Homo sapiens: one gene and its partner. The protein of the gene in region 1 binds, or shares a complex with, the protein of each later gene. Each region holds a gene or a part of one and is shown in the gene's direction. Other genes may lie near its edges.

Region 1 (8,082 bases):
TTACTCACATTTTCTAGTCAAAATAGAAAACTGCTTAAGTCACTGTCTGCAGAAGAGCAAAAAAAAAAAAAGAAATAAAAAATTGAAAACTGCTGATCAGATTGAGAAAAACATAAGATTATTCACCACCTAAAGAGAAAAAATTTCAGTCGAAAGGGAAAAAAATTCATTTTTGTCTTAATAAGGCAAATTCACAATTTTTGAGGTTTTAACAAAATATATGCAGAAAGACAAGGCCACCCCGTAGAACGTGCACACAGCCCTAGGCTTGGAAATGGCTGGATTTAATAATATCTGGTCTTTCTTTGAGCCCTGAAATTCTCTAACACTATGTCTTGGAACATAATTTTACTGTTTTCAGTGGTTATAGAGATTTGCTTTACAATTTAGCATTGGTCTTTACCCATGATTTTGTTTGACGCCAACTTGTTGGGCAGGAATGCACCCCCTGCCCCCCGCTTTGTTATGGCCTTGCTCCTATAGGGCAAGAATATCTGCTTTAAGGCCGGGTGTGGTGGCTCAGGCCTGTAATCCCAGCACTTTGAGGGGCCAAGGCGGGCAGATCACCTGAGGTCAGGAGTTTGAGACCAGCCTGGCCAGTATGGTGAAATCCTGTCTCTACTAAAAATAACAAAAATTAGCTGGGTGTGGTGGCACACACCTGTAATCCCAGCTATTTGGGAGGCCGAAACAAGAGAACCACTTGAACCCAGGAGGCGGAGGTTGCGGTGAGCCGAGATTATGCCACTGCACTCCAGCCTGGGAAACAGAGCAAGATTCCGTCTCACACACAAAAAATATATATATGTCTGCTTTAAGTATGCAGGCCGTGTTTGTGCTGAACGGCAGGAATGCCAAACTTGGCTGCATGGTACCAACTAGGGACCTCAGAGTTCCAAGGAGAACAAACAGTTGGTTCCTGGAGGCTGGGGGCTTGTATCAGACCCTGAAGACTAAGCATGTGCTGGGTCCATTGTTGTCCTGCACCCATGGTAGTGCACTAAACACCTAACCTATATTTAAGTGTTTTTGTTTGTCCAAAAAATGTCTTTTTTTTTTGGGAGTCAAGAGTCTTGCTCTGTTGCCCAGGCTGGAGTGCAGTGACACGATCTCAGCTCACTGCAGCCTCCGCCTCCCGGGTTCAAGCTATTCTCCTGTCTCAGCCTCCCAAATAGCTGAGACTATAGGCACGCACATCCATGCCCAGCTAATTTTTTTATTTTTAGTAGAGACGAGGTGTCTCCATGGTGGCCAGGTTGGTCTTGAACTCCTGTCCTCAAGTGATCCACCTGCCTCGGCCTCCCAAAGTGGTGGGATTGCAGGCATGAGACACCGCGCCCGGCCTGCCTTGTCCCTTCTTAAAATGAGTTGTCCATTTGTAAGCTGCTGATTTCTTTGGGACATTGTCTCCGTAAACTTTTCATAAAGCATCAGTGATTTCACCATTCTTCCACCCAAGCTTCACCGTAAATTTGTTGTTTGTTCTTGCTTCAATTTCAGCAGAATTCATTTAGCTCTGATAAGGGCTCGCTTCAAACTGATGTCTTATCCTTCTTAGTGCCTCAAACTACATCCTGTTCACTCATGTTATAGCAAGTTAGTGTGAGTTTATTTTGGTGCACAAAAATTTTTTTAAATCCATGCAGTCTTTTTTCATAATACGCATTTTCCATGAACTTTTCGAAGACCCCTTGTAGATGTCTGTTGTTTAAACCACCCAGTTTACAGTAATTTTTTTTTTTTTTTGAGATGAAGTCTTGCTCTGTCGCCCAGGCTGGAGTGCATTGGCACACTCTCGGCTCACTGCAACCTCTGCCTCCTGGGTTCAAGCAATTTTTCTGTCTCAGTCTCCCGAGTAGCTGGGATTACAGGTGTGTGCCACCATGCCTAGCTAATTTATGTGTTTTTAGTAGAGACGGGGTTTCACTATGTTGGCCAGGCTGGTCTCGAACTCCTCACCTTGTGATCGGCCCGCCTCGGCCTCCCAAAGTATTGGGATTACAGGCGTGAGCCACTGCACCTGGCCTACAGTAATTTTATAGCAGCCCAGGCTAAGATAGCCATTTCTGGGTATAAGAATGTCATATACTGAACAGGCCTGCAACTGTGAGTAAAAGTCTGCAAAGAGGCCGGGCAGTGGCTCATACCTGTAATCCCAGCACTTTGGGGGGCCGAGGCAGGTGGATCACCTGAGGTCAGCAGTTCGAGACCAGCCTGACCAACATGGTGAAACCCCATCTCTACTAAAAATACAAAATTAGCTGGGCGTGGTAGTGCATGCTTGTAATCCCTAGCATGCACTTGGGAGCTACTTGGGAGGCTGAGGCAGGAGAATCACTTGTACTCAGGAGGCCGAGGTTGCAGTGAGCTGAGATCACGCCACTGCACTCCTTTCTGGGTGACAGAGTGAGACTCCATCTCAAAAAAACAAAACAAAACAAAACAAAAACAAACAAAAAAACCCAACAGGTAGGTAGCAGTGGTTCACGCCTGTAATCCCCACTTTGGGAGGCTAAAGTGGGCAGATCACCTGAGGTCAGGAGTTCACGTCCAGCCTGGGCAACATGGTGAAACTCTGTCTCTACAAAAATACAAAAATTAGCCAGGCATGATGGCGGGTGCCTGTAGTTCCAGCTATTCGGGAGGCTGAGGCAGGAGAATCGCTTGAACCTAGGAGGTAGAGGTTGCAGTGAGCCGAGTTCACGCTATTGCACTCCAGCCTCCATCTCAAAAACAAAACAACAAAAACCCAAAATATATATTATAATTTTATTTTATTTATTCAATTTTATTTTATTTTATTTTATTTTTCTAGGAACAGGTCTCATTCAGGCCAGGCATGGTGGCTCACGCCTGTAATCCCAGCACTTGGGAGGCCGAGGTGGAGGTGGGCGGATCACCTGAGGTCAGGAGTTCGAGACCATCCTGGTCAATGTGGCGAAACCCCATCTCTACTAAAAATACAAAAATTAGCCAGGTGTGGTGGCACACGCCTGTAATTCCAGCTACTTGGGATACTGAGTCAGGAGAATCACTTGAACAGGGAGATGGAAATTGCAGTGAGCCGAGATTGTTCCACTGCACTCCAGCCTGGGTGACAGGGCGAGACTCCGTCTCAAAAAAAAAAAAAAAAAAGAAAGAAAGAAAGAAAGAAAGAAACAGGATCTTACTCTGTTACCCAGGCTGGAGTACAGTGGTGCAATCATAGCTCACTGCAGCCTGGAACTCCTGGGCTCAAGTGATCCTCCTGCCTCAGCCTCCTCAGTAGCTCAGACTGCAGGCATGCACCACCATTCCCAGCTAATTTTTAATTTTTTTTTGGTAGAGATGAGGGTCTTGCTATGTTGCCCAGGCTGGTCTCAAACTCCTGGCCTCAAGCGATCCTGCCATGTCGGCCTCCCAAAGTGTTGGGATTACAAGTGTGAGCCACTATGCCTGGCCTAAAAATATATATATGAAAATATATAAGAAATGGGCCTCCCAGGAATTAAGGTGTTTGCGGGAGTCCTGGTCCCCAGTTTTTCTGCCAACACTCCCTGTTCCCACACATGACCTGGTCCAGACCCCAAACAGCCAGGCCCAAAGGACAGGTGAGGCGAGGCGAGAACTTGTGCCTCCCCGTGTTCCTGCTCTTTGTCCCTCTGTCCTACTTAGACTAATATTTGCCTTGGGTACTGCAAACAGGAAATGGGGGAGGGACAGGAGTAGGGCGGAGGGTAGGGTAGGACCAGAAGCCTCTCTAGGCCTGCCATGGGGCAGGCAGCCAGGGAGAAGGAGGGCCCCTCAGTGGAGACCCAGGGATTTCAGTAGCCCCTGTTCCGGGACAGGCGCAGGTCCTGGGAGGTGACAGAAGATAGACTAAAGGCCCAAGAGTCCCTGGACCTGACTCCTCCCAGGCAGCTGCCACACACAAACACACCTCCAGGCACCCTGGACAGGAAGGAGGAGAAATGGGCCCCTCCTCCAGTGGCTGAGAAGCTGGGGCAAATGTTGGCTGTTCCTATCCCTGGTGCATCCCATGGCGAGGGGCAACTTCCATCAGGCCACACCTTTTATCTTTGTCTCTATTTTTGATATCTGTGTATTATGATTATACAAACCCCCACATTGGCCTATATGTGCAGATCTGATTAAGAACTTACGATATTCCATGGACATTCCATTCCTAATCTCCTTTAGTCCTCACAACAAAGTATTATTCCCATTGTATAGATGAGGAAACTGAGGCACACAGAGATGACAAGCAACCACCGCTATATGTTAGGATTCGAAGGAGCTCCAGGAAAGTCTCATAGCCCCACTGGCCAGAATGGGCTAAATCTCAGAGGGGGAGGGTGGGAGATGGGGGTGACAGTGACCTTTTTTGTGACTCCTCCTAGACCATCCATCCCTGCTCCCAGGAGGACCTGTCCTCCCAGATGGTGGAGATGGACAGGAGGACTATCTACCCACCCGTCCCCACGGCCCTGACCCTCTGACCTCACCCTCTCCGCTGATTTCTTCATGTTAGTTCAACATTAACCCAGAGGGGTCAGGACAGACAATTCCTCAGTGACCCAGGAGCTGACACACTATGGCGCACGTCCGAGGCTTGCAGCTGCCTGGCTGCCTGGCCCTGGCTGCCCTGTGTAGCCTTGTGCACAGCCAGCATGGTAAGGGAGTGCTTGCAGGCTGGAACAGGCTGGAGGACTGGGGTGTGGGCCCATGGGCTGGGGTCTCCTGGCTGGACAGAGCACACAGAGCTGGCCCCTAAGTAGGTCTCAGCCCCAGGCGGCCAGCTTAGGGAAGAAGTCAGGAGCTCAGGGCTGGAAAGAGAATGGCTGCTTCTCTCTTCCAATATAGGGAGCAGGCTGGGGGCAAGGGGCAGTGTAGGAGGGGCACAGGGGGCCACATTTAGCAGCCTTCCAGGCACTTCCACCAGCCCAGACAGCCTCTCTCAGAAGCCAGCAGGGGAGGGTGGGCTTGCTTCATGCCCCCAGAATGGCCAAGACTGCCTGTTCCTGAGGCCGCTGTCCCATGACCCCCCCACCGCCTTACAGTGTTCCTGGCTCCTCAGCAAGCACGGTCGCTGCTCCAGCGGGTCCGGCGAGCCAACACCTTCTTGGAGGAGGTGCGCAAGGGCAACCTGGAGCGAGAGTGCGTGGAGGAGACGTGCAGCTACGAGGAGGCCTTCGAGGCTCTGGAGTCCTCCACGGCTACGGTGAGCCTGGGCTGCTCGGACGGTGCCGGGGCCTCAGACCGGGCCCAACTCTAGACACTTCCACAGAGAAGCAAGCGAGGAACGCCACAGCCCCTTCGCTGCTCACAGCCTCATTTCAACTCTGAGCCCCTCCTCACAGGGCTGGCAAGAGGAGCGGCCTCAGCCTTTCCTGGGGGTCTCTGTGCCTGGACTGTGTCCCTGTGCAGCTCCATGACATGGGGAGGCCTCCACAGTCTTCAGACATCCACCTGCCCTGGAGCTCTGTGTCCACATGGCCTCCTCAGCGGCAGACTCCCACACCACCCTTGAGGGGTGGGACTCTGGGGAGGCCACCACAAGCCCCCGGGCTCAAGACTCAGTGTTCCTGGAGCTCTGTGTCGCCTTTCCTGTCTGTAGGGCTCTGCCAGGGTCCCACTGCCCCCTCTCCTCCCATCTCCCCCAGCCTCTTTCAGTCTCGGTGTGTGTGTTGGAGGAACTCCCCTATCCTCAAATATTCTTCTCCTTTTGGAAACAAAAGTAGGAAACTCTGCCACAAACCTCCCCAGAGCCTGCCCCCTGCGTGACCAGGGTAAAGGAAAGTGTGAGGAGGAGACATAACATTTACTAAAACAACACAAAACAGGAGCTGCCGTAGCCTCACTCCCAGCCCTTGTTTTTCAGGATGTGTTCTGGGCCAAGTACACAGGTGAGCACCGGGAAGGATTTGCCCCAGGAAGGGAGGCCTGGGGACCCCAGTGAGAGAATTCTACCCAGAGAATCTTCTGCTGCACCTAGCCATCCACCCATCCACCCCTTCCCCACTCCTTCCTTGGTCCCTCCCATCTGTTCATCCATCTTTCTGTTTCTCACCAACATCCCATCCACCCTGACTCCAGCTCATCCTGGCCATACCCCAATCCCAAAGGTAAACACCTGGGTCTTTTCCAGCTTGTGAGACAGCGAGGACGCCTCGAGATAAGCTTGCTGCATGTCTGGAAGGTGAGCAACTGACACGGGTTTGGGGAGCAGGACATGGAGGGGAGCCTGGGAGAAGAGCTCAGGGGTGGGTTTGGAGTGTGGCTGGTGGAGGCCGAGGCAGTCCCCAGCATCTGACATTGCTCCCATTCCTGGGGTCAAGATGTCTCTTTGTACCTGGCTCTGTGTCTGGCATGCGAACGAATGAATGAATGAATGGACTAATGAATTAATGTTTTTTTTTTTGAGACAGAGTCTCGCTCTGTTGCCCAGGCTGGAGTGCAGTGGCACGATCTTGGCTCACTGTAAACTCCGCCTCCCGGGTTCAAGCAATTCTCTGCCTCAACCTCCCAAGTAGCTGGGATTACAGGTGCTCGCCACCACGCCTGGCTAATTTTTGTATTTTTAGTAGAGACGGGGTTTCACCATGTTGGCCAGGCTGGTCTTGAACTCCTGACCTCGTGATCCACCCACCTCGGCCTCAAAGTGCTGGGATTATAGAAGTGAGCCACCGCGCCTGGCCATGAATTCATGTTTAAGGCTTCATTCTCCTTTGCCTGACCCGAGTCTCTGCCCCCACCTAGTCAGAGCTTTGATGATGTCACATTCCCCTTCTAGCTTTAGGTGTCACTGAACCAAACAGGAACCCAAACCCCCAGCTGCTCTGACACCAAGGACTTCCCTAAGCATGCCAAGGTGTTTCTAGCACCTGGCCTTGCATATGTTGTCAATTTCCTCTGGAGCGACCATCACATCTACTGAACACTTTCCTATCCTTCAAGGACTGCTTCAAATGTCACCACTTTTGCTGAGACTTCAGGGAGCACCCTCCCTCCTGCACTGTGTTCTGAAGGCACCTTTAGCACGACAAAAATGGAACTCTTTGTTTATTTATAAGAGACAGGGTCTCCCTTTTTTGCCCAGGCTGATCTTGAACTCCTGGGCTCAGGCAATTCTCCCATCTCAGTCTCCCAAAGGAGTAGGATTATAAGTGTGAGCCACCATGCCTGGCTGCCATACTTTCATTTTTTTTTTTTTTTTTTTGAGGTGGAGTCTCACTCTGTCGCCTAGGCTGGAGTGCAGCAGCGCGATCTCGGCTCGCTGCAACCTCCGCCTAGCGGATTCAAGTGATTCTCCTGCCTTAGCCTCCTGAGTAGCTGGGATTACAGGCACACACTACCATGCCCAGCTAATTTTTTGTATTTTTTAGTAGAGACGGGGTTTCACCATGTTGGCCAGGCTGGTCACAAACTCCTGACCTCAGGTGATCCACCAGCCTCAGCCTCCCAGAGTGCTGGGATTACAGGTGTAATCCACTGCGCCCAGCCTCATTTGTTAAATTACGTACTCAACAGACATTTTACAAAGTTCCTGCTACGTGCCAGGCACTATATCAGGTGCTGGGGATTTTAAGAGAATCAAATACAGTCTCTGCCTTCAAGGAATTCAAAATCTCAAAAGAGAACAAAAATACAAAATATTAAAATGATTGCGGCCGGGTGTGGTGGCTCAAGCCTGTAATCCTAGCACTTTGGGAGCTGAGGTGGGCGCCCAGGCCAGGGGTTTGAGACCATCCTGGCCAACATAGTGAAACCCCCAACCTCTACTAAAAATACAAAAATTAGCTGGGGTGTGGTGGCACGCGCCTGTAATCCTAGCTACTAGGGAGGCTGATGGGGGAGAATTTCTTGAATCTGGGAGGCAGAGGTTGCAGTGAGCTGAGATCATGCCACTGCACTTCAGTCTCGGCAACAGAACAAGACTCATCTCAAAATACATAAATAAAAATAAATAATTCAATAAAGTGATTGCAAGAAAAGTTCTGTTCAAGGCACCAAGAGACCACAGGAAAATGAGTGTCTGGTTTGCCAGAAAAATGAGAGATGGCTTCCCAGGAGAGGCAGAGTTCTGCCTGGCCTGGTGGGATG
Region 2 (7,958 bases), on another chromosome or scaffold:
AGTCATTTCAAAATTTAGAAGATAATTTTAGTACTTTCCAAGAATGCACTTAATATTGTTTTAACAAAATAGTTCCTGTCAAAGTACTATTATCTTCTTGTTATTAGGATACCAAATGTCTTTGGAAAGAATGTACAGATTCATGTAGATTTTTATGATAGATGACATAAGAATTTTTCAGAAACATCTTGTATTTTGAGACCTGAATTAAATCTGACTTTTTAAGAAATATCTCACACAAACAAAACAAAAAGCAATACGTAAGTGATATAACACTCTCTGCTGTGTGTTCTAACAGAACTCAGCATATAGCTTACAGATTTTTTCCATTGTTTTATATTAGATTAAACCGTATAAAACTGTAGATATTATTGTTTTGACCTACAAAAATGTCAAGTTTACATAGTTTAACTTAATTCTCAGCTGCATAACGTATTTGACTTGCTTGCCAATTGTAAGCAACTTGAAGGTAAAAGACTATACATTGTTTGCCTTTTTATCTTAAGCACATAGTATGCAGGACTAGAGAAATAATATACATAGGATAAATGATTGCTAAATTTAGACAAATGAGTGAATGAGTGAGCTGCTCTCAGAAATCAATGCATTTAATTTCTGGTGTCAGCCCAGGGTAAGACAAATATTCCATTCAAAATAACACTGTTGTTTTGTTTTGTATTTTTAAGTTGTATTTATACAATTGCAAATATATAGATAACTGGTTATATATTTTACTTTTCCTGTGGAAGCTGTGATGAGTAGATATAGTTTAAAACTGAAACATATAGCTATAGAATTTCTACTCTTTCTGTATACATTATATACCACACAAATAAAGCTATTAAAACTAGTAAAAACTATTCTAGTCATGCCAAAAGTTATGGCATAACAAATGTGTAAATTCCTGCATTCAAATGTTTATATTAACATTTATATTTAAATGTTTATATTACATTAACTTCAAAAGGATAGATATATCAAACATCCTTCTCATTAGAGCTAAGGTAAATAGGATGTAGTTATCTATAGGAAAAAGACAAACCTGGTGCAGTAGCTCATGCCTGTAATCCCAGCACTTTGGGAGGCTGAAGTGGGTGGAGCACCTCAGGTCAGGAGTTCAAGACCAGCCTGGTCAACATGGGGAAACCCTATCTCTACTAAAAATACAAAAAATTAGCCAGTCATGGTGGTGGGCACCTGTAATCCCAGCTACTCAGGAGGCTGAGGCAGGAAAATCGCTTGAACCCGGGAGGCAGAGGTTGCAGTAAGCTGAGATGGCGCTGTTGCACTCCAGCCTGGGTGGCAGAGTGAGACTCCATCTCAAAAAGAAAAAGCCAATGCACGGCAGATTATAATTTAAGCAACTGAAAATTTCTTCCATCTTTTTTCCAGTTTTGCACATTTAAAGATACGCTTATTGTCACATGCTTTTTAAAAAATGATACTCGTATCATGCCTATTAATTTGCATGGTTTTCCAGCTAAACAAAACCTACTCCTCCAAAGCTTACAATACAGCCTGTTCATGGGGCAGAGAGCCCAGCCTAGTGAGCAGCCTGCAGTGTGGGGCCAAACAGTGAGCTACAGAAGTGCCTCATTAGGGACTCCTGGTACTACAGTCAAAACAAGGGAACATTTTATCATGGAGCATTGGGATATTCTAGGAACAATAAAAGCTACTGTTTCTAGAGCTCCTGCTGTGTATGGCCAACATTTTACATACACCATTTTACATAATCTTCACAGCAATCCTGTAAGACAAATATCATCATCCCATTTATAGCTCAGAGAATTTAAATAGTTTGCCCATGTCACTTAGCTGGAATCCAGGTCTCACATGCTGGAAAGCCCACCATGCATTGTCACCACCATATGGTGACAGCCTTCCATTTCTCCAGCAGATACTGAGCAGCAATTGCTCTATGCCTGACATTTGTGCCAGTCCTTGTGCCTTGGCCTCAGGAAGCTTTGTGTAGGCAAGACACAGAATAAACAAATACCTTCCCAAATGCACATTGTCCAGGAGTTATAAGGTACTGCGTGGAAAAACCAAGCAGAGTCAATGGAATGACATGCGAGAGTGGCAGCTCTTTAGATCAGGTGGCCAGAGAAGGCCTCTCTGAGTAGATGCCATGTGAGCAGAGGCCAGGAGTAAGAAAGGGTGTGAGATGTGCTGATTCTGAGAGGCAAGGATAAAGCCCTCAGGTGGCATCCTTGGAAACACCCTGACATGGCACTAGGGTGGTGGCATTCAACCAAATTGTTTTCTGTTAATTTACCTTCAATCAGATTATGTTCAGCCGACTCACCTAAGGCCTACCAGGTTACTCTCGGGAACTTCTTTGCTATATACCATGTTCACCTCCCAAAGGGGCACTTCTTGTGGGCATAGGAAAATGTGTGCAGAGATCAAGCCTCACCTTCCTATCTAATCCTGACATTTTGCCAGTGCAGTCATTGTGAGTGAGTGTAACCCAGCTTTTCATGGAATCATTGCCCTCTGGAACCTGGATGGGGCTCTGGGGCTTCCTCTTTGCTCTGCAGTTAACTCTAAAATCATAGCAAGCTGCTTCAGGGGTGAGCTTGATCAGACAAGGAGTCTTCCATAGAGCAGACAGTGCACTGCCTTGCACCAGGGCTTCCATCCATTTATAGAAAGCTTCACACGTCTGCAGTGCTGGGGGAGGCAGCCAGGCAACTTCGCATCTCTGGAACCCACTTATGCTTTCTTGCTCAATGAGGGCCCACACCTTTTGGGGAGAATATAAAGACCAATAAAACATTTCAATTCTCAAGTTTATGATCTAGTGGAGGAGACAGACGGTACTCCTATAATGATAAATGCCATTAGTGGTGCACAGTCTAAGGAAGTATGAAAGAACATGAGATTCCTTTTAATTGGACATTGAATCAGGTACCCTGCAAAATGTCTAGCAAAGAACCCAAGACTTAGTAAACATTCAATACACATTAGCTATTACTCTATTAGGATTGGCTTCATGTAGGAAGCAGAATTTGAGGCAAGGTAGGATTGCCAGATAAAGTACAGGATGTCCAGTAAAGTTTGAATTTCAGATGAACAACAAAAAAATTTTAAGTGTGTCTCAAATATCACATGAGACATACTTATACTCAAATAGATTTGTTGTTTATCTGAAATTCAAATTTAACTGGGACACTCTTATTTTTATTTGCTATTTCCGCCAACCTAATACATCTGGTAAATGTAAGCTGAAGATGTTTTTTACCTTTATTGAAGTATAATTGACAAATAAAAATTGCATAATTTAGGTTGTACAGCTGGATGTTTGTTTTTTTATTTTCCTTTAAAGGGGAACTTCTCTCTGATTGGTGTTTTGATACACATAAACATTGTGAAATGATTACCACTATTAATCTAATTAGCACTTAAAACACCTCATATAGTTATCTTTTTGTGTGGTGAGAAGACTTAAGATCTACCTTTTTAGCAAATTTCAAATATACAGCATAATATTATCAACTATAGTCACCATGCTGCACATTGGACTCCAGAACTTATTTATATTGCATAGCTCAAACTTTGTGCCCTCTAACCAACATCTCCCCCATTTCTCCTATGCCTCAGGCCCTGGCCACCACCATTCTACACTTTTCTTCCGTGAGTTTGACTATTTTAGATTTCACATGTAAGAAAGATCATACAGTATTTGTCTTTCTTTTCCGTTTTTTTTTTTTTTTTTGAGAAGGAGTCTCACTCTGTGGCCCAGGCTGGAGTGCAATGATGCAATCTCGGCTCACTGCAACCTCCTCCACCTCCCGCGTTCAAGTGATTCTCCCTGCCTCAGCCTCCTGAGTAGCTGGGATTACAGGTGCCTGTCACCACGACCAGCTAAGCAGTATTTGTCTGTCTATATCTGCTCATTTCACTTAGGATAATGCCCTCTAGGTTCATCAATGTTACTGCAAATGACAGAATTTCCTTCTTTTTCAAGGCTGAGTAATACTCCATTGTGTATATATATATATACACATTTTCTTTATCTACTCATCCATCAGTGGAAACAGGTTGTTTTCATATCTCGGCTATTGTCAATATAGCTACAATGAACATGGGAATGCAGGTGTCTCTTCAAGATCCTGATTTCATTTCCTTTGGAAATACACTCAGAAATGAGATTGCTAGCACAGAAACAGGAAATAAATGGTATTTTTCATGGCACTTTATGATCTCCCATAATTCACTGAGTATTTCCTATGTGACAGTCACTGTTCTGAGAGATTTACAAGAATTAACTCATTTATTCTTCATAAAAGCATGGGGTAGCTTATCAGCATCCTTATTTTATAAATGAGGAAACTGAAGTATAAAGAGGTAAAGTAACTTGTCCAAGAACATAGAGCAGGGAAGTGGTGCAGCTTGGATTATGAACCCAAGATGTTTTGTTCCTGGGGCTGCTGTCATCTTAATATTTTAAATAGAGAAAAGTAATATGTTCTAAATAAACTTATAGAAAGCCTTCAGGGCCAGCTTATCCCCAAAGTTATTTTTTTTATAAGCCAGATCACCCAACCCTAATTTCTGCATAAAGTGAAATATTGTTTGCTAAATCACTACTACTGGGGGCTACAGCTAGCTTACCTAAGCACCTTCTATATTCTTTCACGTTTAGAAATATGGATATACCCTCCTATGCTCCTCTTTTCATTCTCAAAGCCACCCTGTTCCTGGAATGTGAGATCTCCTAATTGTTGACTGGAGAATCAAATGCTACCTTTGCAACAGCTTATCGGAAGCAAACAAGCTGAGGGGAATTGAGCAAGAATTTCTGGGATACCAACAGCATAGGAGGAACAAAGGACGTAGAGGGAGGGTTGACTGTCTACACAGGACAAAGCCAATGATTAACCAAACCTCTTGCAGATTTAAATAGGATGGGAACTAGGAGTGGCAGCAATCCTTTCTTTCAGCTGGAGTGCTCCTCAGGAGCCAGCCCCACCCTTAGAAAAGATGTTTTCCATGAGGATCGTCTGCCTGGTCCTAAGTGTGGTGGGCACAGCATGGGTATGGCCCTTTTCATTTTTTCTTCTTGCTTTCTCTCTGGTGTTTATTCCACAAAGAGCCTGGAGGTCAGAGTCTACCTGCTCTATGTCCTGACACACTCTTAGCTTTATGACCCCAGGCCTGGGAGGAAATTTCCTGGGTGGGCTTGACACCTCAAGAATACAGGGTAATATGACACCAAGAGGAAGATCTTAGATGGATGAGAGTGTACAAACTCACAAGGGAAACTTTAGCATCTGTCATTCAGTCTTACCACATTTTGTTTTGTTTTGTTTTAAAAAGGGCAAGAATTATTTGCCATCCTTGTACCTATAAAGCCTTGGTGCATTATAATGCTAGTTAATGGAATAAAACATTTTATGGTAAGATTTGTTTTCTTTAGTTATTAATTTCTTGCTACTTGTCCATAATAAGCAGAACTTTTAGTGTTAGTACAGTTTTGCTGAAAGGTTATTGTTGTGTTTGTCAAGACAGAAGAAAAAGCAAACGAATTATCTTTGGAAATATCTTTGCAGTATCAGAAGAGATTAGTTAGTAAGGCAATACGCTTTTCCGCAGTAATGGTATTCTTTTAAATTATGAATCCATCTCTAAAGGTTACATAGAAACTTGAAGGAGAGAGGAACATTCAGTTAAGATAGTCTAGGTTTTTCTACTGAAGCAGCAATTACAGGAGAAAGAGCTCTACAGTAGTTTTCAACTTTCTGTCTGCAGTCATTAGTAAAAATGAAAAGGTAAAATTTAACTGATTTTATAGATTCAAATAATTTTCCTTTTAGGATGGATTCTTTAAAACTCCTAATATTTATCAAATGCTTATTTAAGTGTCACACACAGTTAAGAAATTTGTACACCTTGTCTCCTTTAATTCTCATAACAACTCCATAAAATGGGTCCTAGGATTTCCATTTGAAGATAAGAAACCTGAAGCTTGCCGAAGCCCTGTGTCTGCTCTCCTTAATCTCTGTGAGAGTGCCATCTCTTCCTGGGGACTTGTAGGCATGCCACTGTCTCCTCTTCTGGCTAACATTGCTGTTGCTCTCTTTTGTGTATGTGAATGAATCTTTAAAGACTGCAGATAGTGGTGAAGGTGACTTTCTAGCTGAAGGAGGAGGCGTGCGTGGCCCAAGGGTTGTGGAAAGACATCAATCTGCCTGCAAAGATTCAGACTGGCCCTTCTGCTCTGATGAAGACTGGGTAAGCAGTCAGCGGGGGAAGCAGGAGATTCCTTCCCTCTGATGCTAGAGGGGCTCACAGGCTGACCTGATTGGTCCCAGAAACTTTTTTAAATAGAAAATAATTGAATAGTTACCTACATAGCAAATAAAGAAAAGGAACCTACTCCCAAGAGCACTGTTTATTTACCTCCCCAACTCTGGATCATTAGTGGGTGAACAGACAGGATTTCAGTTGCATGCTCAGGCAAAACCAGGCTCCTGAGTATTGTGGCCTCAATTTCCTGGCACCTAATTTATGGCTAAGTGGACCCTCATTCCAGAGTTTCTCTGCGACCTCTAACTAGTCCTCTTACCTACTTTTAAGCCAACTTATCTGGAAGAGATAGGGTAGGAAGAAATGGGGGCTGCATGGAAACATGCAAAATTATTCTGAATCTGAGAGATAGATCCTTACTGTAATTTTCTCCCTTCACTTTCAGAACTACAAATGCCCTTCTGGCTGCAGGATGAAAGGGTTGATTGATGAAGTCAATCAAGATTTTACAAACAGAATAAATAAGCTCAAAAATTCACTATTTGAATATCAGAAGAACAATAAGGATTCTCATTCGTTGACCACTAATATAATGGAAATTTTGAGAGGCGATTTTTCCTCAGCCAATAGTAAGTATTACATATTTACTGCTTTGACTTTATAACAGAAACAACAAAAATCCTAAATAAATATGATATCCGCTTATATCTATGACAATTTCATCCCAAAGTACTTAGTGTAGAAACACATACCTTCATAATATCCCTGAAAATTTTAAGAGGGAGCTTTTGTTTTCGTTATTTTTTCAAAGTAAAAGATGTTAACTGAGATTGTTTAAGGTCACAAAATAAGTCAGAATTTTGGATTAAAAACAAGAATTTAAATGTGTTCTTTTCAACAGTATATACTGAAAGTAGGATGGGTCAGACTCTTTGAGTTGATATTTTTGTTTCTGCTTTGTAAAGGTGAAAACTGAGAGGTCAAGGAACTTGTTCAAAGACACAGAGCTGGGAATTCAACTCCCAGACTCCACTGAGCTGATTAGGTAGATTTTTAAATTTAAAATATAGGGTCAAGCTACGTCATTCTCACAGTCTACTCATTAGGGTTAGGAAACATTGCATTCACTCTGGGCATGGACAGCGAGTCTAGGGAGTCCTCAGTTTCTCAAGTTTTGCTTTGCCTTTTTACACCTTCACAAACACTTGACATTTAAAATCAGTGATGCAACACTAGCTGGCAAGTGAGTGATCCTGTTGACCCAAAACAGCTTAGGAACCATTTCAAATCTATAGATTAAAAAGAAAAGCTCATCAGTAAGAAAATCCAATATGTTCAAGTCCCTTGATTAAGGATGTTATAAAATAATTGAAATGCAATCAAACCAACTATTTTAACTCCAAATTACACCTTTAAAATTCCAAAGAAAGTTCTTCTTCTATATTTCTTTGGGATTACTAATTGCTATTAGGACATCTTAACTGGCATTCATGGAAGGCTGCAGGGCATAACATTATCCAAAAGTCAAATGCCCCATAGGTTTTGAACTCACAGATTAAACTGTAACCAAAATAAAATTAGGCATATTTACAAGCTAGTTTCTTTCTTTCTTTTTTCTCTTTCTTTCTTTCTTTCTTTCTTTCTTTCTTTCTTTCTTTCTTTCTTTCTTTCTTTCTCCTTCCTTCCTTTCTTCCTTTCTTTTT

What was found. The genes of interacting proteins can lie anywhere in the genome.
Region 2: the proteins of F2 (region 1) and FGA are in contact, whole or in part, in a crystal structure (PDB 2A45), measured with the Homo sapiens proteins. Residues at the interface, in NP_000497.1 of Homo sapiens: Phe382, Lys384, Ser385, Gln387, Leu423, Arg425, Tyr434, Glu439, Lys440, Ile441, Ser442, Met443, Lys470; in NP_000499.1 of Homo sapiens: Trp52, Pro53, Phe54, Cys55, Ser56, Asp57, Glu58.

The regions. Positions count from the first base shown.
Region 1 is NC_000011.10:46,714,663-46,722,744, forward strand, and holds the start of F2 (prothrombin preproprotein), read left to right. Parts: upstream 1-4,550; 5' UTR 4,551-4,573; coding exon 4,574-4,652; intron 4,653-5,039; coding exon 5,040-5,200; intron 5,201-5,860; coding exon 5,861-5,885; intron 5,886-6,127; coding exon 6,128-6,178; intron 6,179-8,082. UniProt on the Homo sapiens protein: Thrombin, which cleaves bonds after Arg and Lys, converts fibrinogen to fibrin and activates factors V, VII, VIII, XIII, and, in complex with thrombomodulin, protein C. Functions in blood homeostasis, inflammation and wound healing.
Region 2 is NC_000004.12:154,587,719-154,595,676, reverse strand, and holds the start of FGA (fibrinogen alpha chain isoform alpha precursor), read left to right. Parts: upstream 1-4,934; 5' UTR 4,935-4,989; coding exon 4,990-5,043; intron 5,044-6,114; coding exon 6,115-6,240; intron 6,241-6,700; coding exon 6,701-6,884; intron 6,885-7,958. UniProt on the Homo sapiens protein: Cleaved by the protease thrombin to yield monomers which, together with fibrinogen beta (FGB) and fibrinogen gamma (FGG), polymerize to form an insoluble fibrin matrix. Fibrin has a major function in hemostasis as one of the primary components of blood clots.